3 linked regions of the Homo sapiens genome follow. The protein of the gene in region 1 interacts with the protein of each later gene in a pairwise test. Each region holds a gene or a part of one and is shown in the gene's direction. Other genes may lie near its edges. The genes, in order: ALX1, ZNF300 and OR52L1.

Region 1 (3,758 bases):
TATTATTTAAGATTAAAATATATTTTCTGAGCCACATTAGTAGCTTGGTTTTATCTGCTGTGAATAAAACACATGACATTAAATTTGCTTCAGTTTTCAAAAATCATGGACACTTAAAGTTTCTTTCATGAAACACCCAGATCATCTTTTAATTCGAGTACATGAATTTAAGTAAAAAACATGTGCATAAACTTATAAATCCTGTAAAATAGAACTGCGGATTTTGGCAGATCATAGCAGTTGCATGAACACATTTTAAAATGGTATTTAAACCTGTCCTACAATGAATTAAGTATAGAAATGTGGTAATTGAATTAATACTAGCACAATAAATTATTAATAGGCCAATTTCTTGATACTCTCAATTACTTCTACTTATTGATTTAATTGAGATGAGTTTCACAATCCTGAGAACTGTTGTTTTTCCTCCTCTGGGTACAGTGAACTATGGGATCACTAAAGTAGAAGGACAGCCCCTTCACACCGAACTGAATAGAGCTATGGACAACTGTAACAGTCTCCGAATGTCTCCCGTGAAAGGGATGCAAGAGAAGGGAGAGCTGGATGAACTTGGGGATAAATGTGATAGCAATGTATCCAGCAGTAAGAAACGGAGGCACCGAACCACCTTCACCAGTTTGCAGCTAGAGGAGCTGGAGAAAGTCTTTCAGAAAACTCATTACCCGGATGTGTATGTCAGAGAACAGCTTGCTCTGAGGACAGAGCTCACTGAGGCCAGGGTCCAGGTAGGAGCCAAAAAGAGGCCTTGATGGATGGGATAGGAAAATAAATGGTGTTAGAATAATTGAATAAGTGCATTTTGCCACAAAGAAACAAACTGATTCCCTAGCTGAAGATGAGAAACGGAGTAATATATATGAATATATGTCTACTAAAATTATTTTTTAATTGCAAAAATTTTGACAACTCACGCAATATGTAAAACAAAAGAACACAAGTTATTACAGAGACATAAAAATTAACAATCATTCAAACATAACAATATGATAATATATCTCTGATTTTCAAAAGCAGTTTTTAAAGGATGAAAAGCAGAATCATGACTATTTAGTAATTGGTATATTTATTTGTTTTTTTTTTTTCGGTTTTATTAGCCACTAAGGTTCTTTTTTAGATTATATATCAGGTATTTGTAAATTATTTGTATAATAGCCCATACATCTAGAAATTTCTAGATTTGGAGGCATAATAAAAAAAAAAACAATCCCACAAATTCCCAATTGTTATGTATACCATGGAATGTTTTCACTATGGATAATTAAAAACAAGATCAAATAGTGCTCATTTACAATTTTATAGTCCTAGTAGTTGTCAACATGTAAATATTCCATTATAATGGTTAAAGTCTAGATAAATCATATGAATTTTGCATAGGCAATAAAAATAATGGCTTTAAAGTAAATTTTTGTGTATACTCAATTATGTTTATAAGATATATTCTAGTTATTAAATTGGATGATCCAATATGCTTAATTTTTAAAAATAATTTGAGAAAGAAAAATCATACCAGGTAAAATTTTACCTCTTAGGAGTACTTTATTTTGACTACATTTGATATTCTTAAACTATATTTTACTAGTTTCCAAGTAGTAAGAGTTTAAAATGCAACAATAATTCAGGATAATGGCCTTGGTCTTTGTGTGTGTTCTGACTCCTCTACAAAAGTATTGATTTTTGCAATTCCCATAAACTGCTAAAATGGGGGAATGAATAAAATAGTGAAAATTTTTGTTCTAAATCGAGTAACGGTATTTCTTCTTAAAATTGTAAGGCTCTTACATCATTAGAGACAACATCTGGTGGCACACGGATAACAAGCAGCAGATTTTTACTTGAGTTTGTGGAAGCAAATGGTTACTTTATCTTGGTTCAGGAAGTAAATATGTAGAAAGTTCATGCTAACAAAGAATTTTAGAATTGTCGAGTATTAACACCCGCTGTGTAAGTTTGAGATTTTTGTCTTTGTCTATATTTAAATTAGTTATACTTGTAACCATAAACAAATATGTTTGCACACAGAGTGACCAACTGTACATAATGCATCTTTTCCCCTTAACATTCACCAAGTCTTGATTAATTTTTGTCTGAGAACATGCACAGAGAGCCAACTTGAACTTAATTTACTCAGGTCGTTCTCTTTCCTGCTTTGCACATAAGAGTGGTAACTATTACTCATTTTAAGGAAATTGTCAAGTTCTTTTTGTCAATGGAAAAAAAAATAAAACCCAAAAACGTATTACTAAATTCCCTTAGTGTGTTCCTGGGGCTCATCTGCGGAGACAGCAAGAAAATTTGATTTGTTTTTTGTTGTTGTTGATGTCTTGAGCCTTGGCATAATGGATAATATGCATTTATCAGCAGTGTACTAAAACTATAATGAACATGTAGCTCTCTGGCTCATTTCAATTGCTGAAAACTCTGCAAAGTGCCATCTTAAATTTGTAATGTGTACTAAAAAATTAAACTGAGTATTAATATGTTGCCATAATGGTGAAGGTAAAGATATACAAGATTAGAATTGAGTATGAAAAAGAGTGAAAATTTCAAGTAAACTTCAACAAAAGGCTTTTACAACTTGCATTTTTTATATTTGATTTCTAGCCTTTTTCCTAAATATTTTATATTCTGAACATAATTGTGTGAAGAAGACTAGATTCCCAAAAGCTACTCCTATAATGTTCATTTAAAAACATCCAAGTATATATATTGAATATAATCTTCTGCATCTCCCTTTAATATTAAAGTGAAGATATTGGAATATTACAGGTATGAATTAATGAATATCCAACCTGCTGAGGAAGATGGTTCTTATAATAAATACTTCTAATAGGTAATTAGAGAAATTGTGGAAGATAGCTTAGTGACCTTAGCTGCCACAGTAACTGATAGACTTTCTTGACACTTGGTTCTATCTGCCCTATTTCTTATATTATTTCCATTACCTGTGCTTTAAATTAGAGAAATTACGTAAAGATATCCGAGCATTTTCATAAGGGAAAATAAGTTGCATAATGTATGTAATAAGCACATTCACGTATTTTAAAACCATAGTTCAACTTTAGATGATTCCTTTTTACCTATAATTCTTGTCATGCTTATTATAATATGTAATCTCATTTTTTCCTATTTCTAGATAATCATGATGTTCCTGCTGCTGCCATATATTTAGGTGTAATCTTTATGTTTAAAATTTTAAAAGATTATGTAGGTATGAGCACAACTGAGAAGAGCTTTCACTTTTGTGATATATTTTAAAGATAAGTTTTAATAGACTCAGATATTAATTTGCTTATAGATTGACTGAGTTTACGTTACGGCATATACATCTTCCAGACTTGCAGCATTCTCTTAAAGGAGACTTATCCATGACAATGTGGAGATATATGGAGTATTCAGGATCATATAATCTAATTGCTTTTTGTTTTCCATAAATGAGAAAACAGAGGCTCAGACGTATCAGATGTATTTCCCGAAAGTCTCCTGCCTCTTTCTATTAAATTATTTTGTCTCATGGGAAAATCACTTACCACATCAAGATACAAGAAAAAGTAAAATCTGTGGATCCTTTTCTAACATAAATACATTTCTTTTTACGTAATTTTTTTAACCTGGTTTACCTTTCTTGTTTGATGTCTTTTAACATCACATTTGCTTTATCAAATATTCCTTAGCTAAAATTCTAATTTTTATTAAATAATTAGGTTTGGTTTCAAAATCGAAGGGCCAAATGGAGAAAA
Region 2 (3,758 bases), on another chromosome or scaffold:
CAGCTGTTCCCATTCTTGACTCACAGAAACTATGCGACAATAAATATTTATAATTTCAAGTTGCTAAGTTTTGGGTAATTTGTTACACAGCAATAGATAACTAATACATGTAGTTTTGCTAGATATTGCCAAACCCTCTAAAGAGGGCTGTAAGTTTGCTGTCCCACCAGTAACACATGATATTTCCCATGGCCTAACAGTGTTGCCAAACTTAGAAAATATTTTATAAGCAAATAGATGGGAAATGGTATTGTACTATGGCTTTAATTTTCTTCCTTTCATTATGAGGGAGGCTTCCTGTTCCTTCAACATCTTCTTTTTAAATTAGGTACTACATAAGGACAGCTTTCCGTAATTCTTAAGATGAAGAACTAAAGTTTTTACAATTCCTACAAGGCTCTCCGCATAGGAATAGTAGTAGAGTCTGGCCTTTTCCTGACTCTACAACTTCCACTGGCATCACTCCTTGAGGGTGAGGTATCTGAATTAATCATTACTATATACCTTTACCACTAAACTCAGTGTCTACACTGTCTTAAGCTCAAGTCAAGAAATAAATATTGATATAACTGTGGAAGTCTAAATAGAGATGAAGAGGTTAAGTGTTCACAACCAACTATTTCTTATCCTCTTTGTCTTGACCAACCTTTAGTCAGACTTCTCTCCTTCCCGCAGGCCCCTTCATTTTGGCTTCCCCTGAGTTGAAACACTGCACTAATGCACTATGATTCAAAACATCTCCCCTTAACCGCTTATTCTCAGAATTCCATGACAACAGAAACAATTTCTGTAGAAATGCCCTGGTTTTGCCACCTGCACACCCCTATCTCATATCCTTCTCCCTACAAAGTTCCTGCTAACCCTTCTTACTCTTCCCTATAAAAAAAAAAAAAGTCATTTTGTTGATATTGTGATTCTTGCAGATTTGAGATTGGAGCATTCTTCCTAATGCAACAGTGTTCTTTCTGAATACATTGTCTTCTTATCTAAGTGCATTTGTTTTGACATGAGAAATAAATTGCTAAATGTAAAATTGCTGCCTATTTCATAACATATCAAAAAGCATGACTCGTGTGAAAATTATGATTCAAAATTGTATTCATTTATACAAATGAAACATTGGTCTGTGAACATGCATTTTGCTTTTTTAAAGCTTGATGTAAGGTCTAAGGGTTAAGATAACAATTTTAGTATTCTCTTTGGCTGGTTCATTTTTAAAAAATCATGTTGTTGTTGTTGTTTCTGAAATCTAACCTTCTCAGTCTCTCCCTTATGTCTGTTCCAATTTTCAAGTCTCTTTTCTGTCTCAATCTGTCTGTCTACCACGCTCTACCCCTTAGATCCCCACTTCTATTCCTATGTCTATTTTTTTCTCTTCAGTCTCCCGTCTCTCCTCCTTTCTAGGCTGGCTCCTTTGTCCCCATTTCCCCCATTTTCTCTCTGATTCTCTGCTTCTCACTTCCCTCTCTTTGTGCCTCAGTCTCCTCTTCCCTGCTCTTAATTTCCCTTTTTCCTTCAGTCGACCTCTTATTACTTATTACTGCAATATCAAATTCCCTTATAAGGATTCCTTACCGTTGTTATTGGCATAATTACAGTACACAATGATTGTTCAGCCCCCAGATTTTGTCCCTCTCTCCCACAGTGAAATCTCCCTGGAGAGGACCGCACCATTCCACGCTTCCCCTCTGAGCAGTCGAATCTCCCGGCATGGGGCTGTACCATTCACAAACACGTCCATGGTACCATCTAAAATTCCTCCCCTTTCGTCAGAAGCATGCTTCCAATAGAGGAAGGTTCACTCCAACTTCCTCTTCAATCCCCCTTGTAAAATCTTTCTGCAAAAGTGTGCTCCTTAATGCTCCTTTCGCAGGCCTCCTTTCCGTCGCCTTCCCCTCCCTTCGCTGCCGCTGTGGTACAGCCCATTCTCGGGCTCAGCACTGGGCGAATCCTCCGCTAGTACGAAGACGACCGGGCTCTCAAGATGGCGGCCCCATGCGGAAACAGCTCCAGGGAGCAGCCATGTTGCTTCCTGAACAAAGCCTCTGAAGATGCGGAACGGGCAAAACCGCCCAGTACGGAACGGCGCAGCCTCGGGAGCCCGGTGTGGTGCTCGCGGACAGGAAGCAGGAGAGTTTGCCAATAGGGATGTGACAGCGGTTCCCATTAAGCGGTGATGGTGGTTTTGGGACCTGATAATCGAGCTGGGAGTCAGAGGCGGGATGTGTGCGGTGAAGGGTGAGTCTGTGGGATTGGTAATGGGAGGAGAGGAGCCCGTGAGGGTCAGTGGTAGGAGGTTTATGAAATCACTGGTGGGGGAAGTAGGTGGGATTAATGTTGGATTTATGTGGGAGTCCGAGATGTGATTAGTAACAGGGAAGTGAGAGGTGAGGGGGTGTCTATTAGGTCAGGAATGGCTTGCAGGTGGACTGACTGGTGGGTTTAACTGGGTTCAGTGATTTAGGGGACTCTGAGGAATCAGTGATGGGAGGCTATGGACTAAATGATGGGGGCGTCCATGTGTTCAGTGATGTGATGGACATGGGGGAGTTCAGTAGGGTATATGATTACTAGGCCTGAGAATTCCGAGATTTAGATGGGGACAGTAATGGGGCCACGGTGTCATGGTGGTCAGCCACATTTTACTGGGGAAGGCCTTTACTTAACGTTAAATTTCCACAGGTCATAGGCAACTGTTTGAGTTCTTAAAGGTCAACCCCTTTTCACATCTTTTCTTAGTCTACCATTGCCCACTAAGCATTTCTGATGGTACCCCCATCAAATGGTCATTTTAAAACAAGACCAAACAAATCAAAACTGATAAAATCATAATTAAAAGTTTGATTTCAGTTCTCCACTTTCTAAGTTTATTTAAATCATTTTATATTTTATTCAAGAGACATTTATTGAGCATCTGCGGGATATCCAGAGATGAGTATGATTGTTTCTTTTGTTTCCTTCCAGATGTTTTGATACCCCCATATAAAATAATCTGTCTGTCATGGGAGCCCCCACGTCCTCTGAAATAGTTCAGCTCTGTCTGCATGACTTGTCCTGGGACTGAGGAAAATTTACCAGGTATTTACCTTCCTGCATTGTGGTATACTCTTTTTTTTTCCAGTGGTTCCAACCTATCACCATTTTTGTATACAGACAATAGAGCTGTTGAAAAAGAGCAATAAAAATTTAAACAGAAAACATCTTAAAATTAACCTTTGAGTTCATGCACATTGATTTAGCAAGAGTTTTCTAAGTTGGGGGAAAATATAAGAGAGTTCTTGGAAAATTGTTGGAATTCAGCTGCTGGTTCTTTTTAGGAATAGGGAACACATGCCTCAGTTTTCCATTTGGTCATTCCCATTCTTACTGCCAAGGAGCTCCATCTTCACTTATATCCTTATATAGCTATCCATGATTATTGCCTCATGAAAATCTTCTATAAATAGAATTGCTGATTCCCAAGGGGAACAGTAAGTTGTTAGTAAATCAACTGGAAACATATCTTCACATCTATCCAATTATAAAACCTTGGTCAACTTCTATGTGATCATATTATAGGTACAAGAGGAGTAAAGAATGATCCCTCCTCCACATGGTGCCTGCTGAGACTTCTGTAAGGCTCAAACAACCTTATCCCACAGGGTAGCCCATTAGTTACTTGACTTCTGATGTTAGTTGTTGCAAGATTGGTGAATGTGAAAGCTGCAGTCTGGGTTTGGACTATGAAAAACATTCTGATCACCAGTTTTGCTTTTTCA
Region 3 (3,304 bases), on another chromosome or scaffold:
TTATAACTATAATTTGTAGACTAATCTAGATATCAAGACTTTACATATATTACTTAATTAATGTTTACAATAAACCTGTAAGATTGATGTTAGTTATAAAATAAGGAAATCAAGACTGAGAGAGTTTTAGTATCCTGCCAAGGTTTTATTCCTAGAATATGAAATGGACAAAATTTAAACTAAGTCTGTCTTCCTCCATTGCTTTTATTTATCTCACTACATTGTGAAATGTTCACCATGCTATGTTATAATTATAAAGTATAATAAGATATGTTTCTTTAAAAAAACAAACCATTAAGACACTGATAGAATTTCTAGAGATAAGTCAGAAAGTTATGGATGAATAAAGGAAGATTATAAAGTGCTCTGAACATAATCAATATTCATCTGACATAGGCAATGAGTCCTTTTGAGGGGTGACAGTGGACTTTGAATTTTGAAGGACCAATTCAGATAAAGGAATTTGGAGACAGACTACACAAAAGGCATAGGTAAGCTTGGTGTGTACATGTAACTCCAAGAATGCAGGGATGGTTAGTAAAACATATGTAGAAATATATCAACTGTAAGACAAAAGTAATGCAAAAAAGATAACTTTTGATAATCTTTTATGCCAGTCTCAAAGTATGATTTTATTCCATGCAATAAATTCACCAAAGGATTTTAATCTTAGGAGTGATATGATGAGATCTGCATTTTAGAAAAAAAACCCATGACTTCAGGGTTGAGAGTGAATTGGGAAGGTGTTTATGGCAAAGGCAGAAAGATGTTATGAAATAGTCCAGGTGAGAGAAGTTGGGTGTAAACTAAGGTAGTGATATTGGGGGTTGAGAAGAAGGAGTGGATATAAGAGGGGTTAACATAAAGTCAACATGAATTGGTGAATGAATAAAAGGGGATGAGGATTATGAGTAAAGACAGGTTCCAAGTTTTTAGATTGGGTTGTGTAGGTAGCTAGGGATGTAATTAAAAATTATTGCCAAAACATAAGTAGAACAAATTTGGGAAAAATAGGTGAATTAATCCAATGTTGAATATGTTGAGGATGTGGTGTATAGATATTCATAAAGCAAATGGAAAAATGGATTTATATTTCAGAAGGATATTTGGGTAAACAGACATAAATTTGGAAGAAATAAAAGTATATAAACAGTTAAAACCATGGGAATAAATGAAGTCAATTAAGAGATAATGCACAGAATAGGGAATACAGGAGAGGATGGATCCCTGGAATCAATGACATAATGAGATAGAGAAAATGGTGGGACCAAGGCTACAGGGGGAACAACTCTGGAGTGCCATGTCATGGAAACTGAGGAAGACTAATTTCAAAAACAACAGATTGATTCACAGTGGTCAGTAATACCAAGAGGCTAATAAAAATAACTCTTTGAAGTTGACAGTTCCAAAATATAAGCAACTGAATAGTAGAGTTTAAGCATCTCTCCAAAAGCAGCTTATGTTTACTCTTATCTCTAAACAAAACTAAGCTTGTATTAATTCAGACATGTGGATGTCTCACTTGTAAAAGAATTATCTCCACCAAAGGAGATTTTCTTCCCTGTAGCTAACTTTATTCCCTTCGTTTGCAGTTGAAGTCACTTTATTCTTCTCAGGATGATGGTTGCCCCATTTGGACAATGTGATAATGTAGCAGGAATGCAGAAATCATGACTTTGGTTTCTTTTTTCTCTTTCCTCTCCAAGCCATTGATAATGCTCCTTAGCAATTCAAGCTGGAGGCTATCCCAGCCTTCTTTTCTCCTGGTAGGGATTCCAGGTTTAGAGGAAAGCCAGCACTGGATTGCACTGCCCCTGGGCATCCTTTACCTCCTTGCTTTAGTGGGCAATGTTACCATTCTCTTCATCATCTGGATGGACCCATCCTTGCACCAATCTATGTACCTCTTCCTGTCCATGCTAGCTGCCATCGACCTGGTTCTGGCCTCCTCCACTGCACCCAAAGCCCTTGCAGTGCTCCTGGTTCATGCCCACGAGATTGGGTACATCGTCTGCCTGATCCAGATGTTCTTCATCCATGCATTCTCCTCCATGGAGTCAGGGGTACTTGTGGCCATGGCTCTGGATCGCTATGTAGCCATTTGTCACCCCTTGCACCATTCCACAATCCTGCATCCAGGGGTCATAGGGCGCATCGGAATGGTGGTGCTGGTGAGGGGATTACTACTCCTTATCCCCTTCCCCATTTTGTTGGGAACACTTATCTTCTGCCAAGCCACCATCATAGGCCATGCCTATTGTGAACATATGGCTGTTGTGAAACTTGCCTGCTCAGAAACCACAGTCAATCGAGCTTATGGGCTGACTATGGCCTTGCTTGTGATTGGGCTGGATGTTCTGGCCATTGGTGTTTCCTATGCCCACATCCTCCAGGCAGTGCTGAAGGTACCAGGGAGTGAGGCCCGACTTAAGGCGTTTAGCACATGTGGCTCTCATATTTGTGTCATCCTGGTCTTCTATGTCCCTGGAATTTTCTCCTTCCTCACTCACCGCTTTGGTCATCATGTACCCCATCATGTCCATGTTCTTCTGGCCACACGGTATCTCCTCATGCCACCTGCGCTCAATCCTCTTGTCTATGGAGTGAAGACTCAGCAGATCCGCCAGCGAGTGCTCAGAGTGTTTACACAAAAGGATTGATCTGAACATATTCTCATTGTTTCCTTCGGAGGCTTCTTCTGCGGACCACAGCCAGGAGCCTGTGACTGGTGTAGATTACATGAATACAGACCATTTTGCAGTGAGTATTCCTTCTAGTCTTACTAGTGCCATGCTAAAGAACACCCACAGATACTTGGCTTATTGGGATGTACCTGGATATCTGGATTTGTGAATATTTTTGCCATTTTTTCTTTTGCTCTTGATTTCAACATTTCTCTACTCCTTGTGTCAGTAGGACTTGGGGATAGGAGAAATAGATGATAGCTCTGAATGTGTCATCTTTCTCGCCTTTGCCCAATGGTAGGCCATGCAACACTGTCTGGAATTGTAAAGTCCCACCCTTTGGTTGGTTTTAGGTTTAGAGTTTCTTCAAAACCTCTAAGTTAGTGCTGGGATCCCCAGATCATTGGCTCCTGTTTACCAATAGGGTCTCTTCAAAGCAGCTGAGAAGGTCGCAGTGTAAGAAAACAGCATTTATTGCAATATGGGTATTACTTATTTATTTAAAACAAACATAAGTGGAGAAGTTATGGTAATAGGCTCTAGGAATAATAAAATATAATTTCTATTTTCAAGGAAGAAATCTATATGTGTCTAGGAAATTTATTTTAAAAGATATCTCT

Evidence for each region.
Region 2: the proteins of ALX1 (region 1) and ZNF300 interact in binary tests that used the Homo sapiens proteins (3 or more experiments, as listed by UniProt).
Region 3: the proteins of ALX1 (region 1) and OR52L1 interact in binary tests that used the Homo sapiens proteins (3 or more experiments, as listed by UniProt).

The regions. Positions count from the first base shown.
Region 1 is NC_000012.12:85,283,131-85,286,888, forward strand, and holds part of ALX1 (ALX homeobox protein 1), read left to right. Parts: intron 1-441; coding exon 442-746; intron 747-3,722; coding exon 3,723-3,758. UniProt on the Homo sapiens protein: Sequence-specific DNA-binding transcription factor that binds palindromic sequences within promoters and may activate or repress the transcription of a subset of genes.
Region 2 is NC_000005.10:150,903,184-150,906,941, reverse strand, and holds the start of ZNF300 (zinc finger protein 300), read left to right. Parts: upstream 1-1,961; 5' UTR 1,962-2,238; intron 2,239-2,964; 5' UTR 2,965-3,078; intron 3,079-3,558; exon of another isoform or gene 3,559-3,592; coding exon of another isoform or gene 3,593-3,613; intron 3,614-3,624; exon of another isoform or gene 3,625-3,758. UniProt on the Homo sapiens protein: Has a transcriptional repressor activity.
Region 3 is NC_000011.10:5,985,297-5,988,600, reverse strand, and holds OR52L1 (olfactory receptor 52L1), read left to right. Parts: upstream 1-1,615; 5' UTR 1,616-1,670; coding exon 1,671-2,660; 3' UTR 2,661-2,709; downstream 2,710-3,304. UniProt on the Homo sapiens protein: Odorant receptor.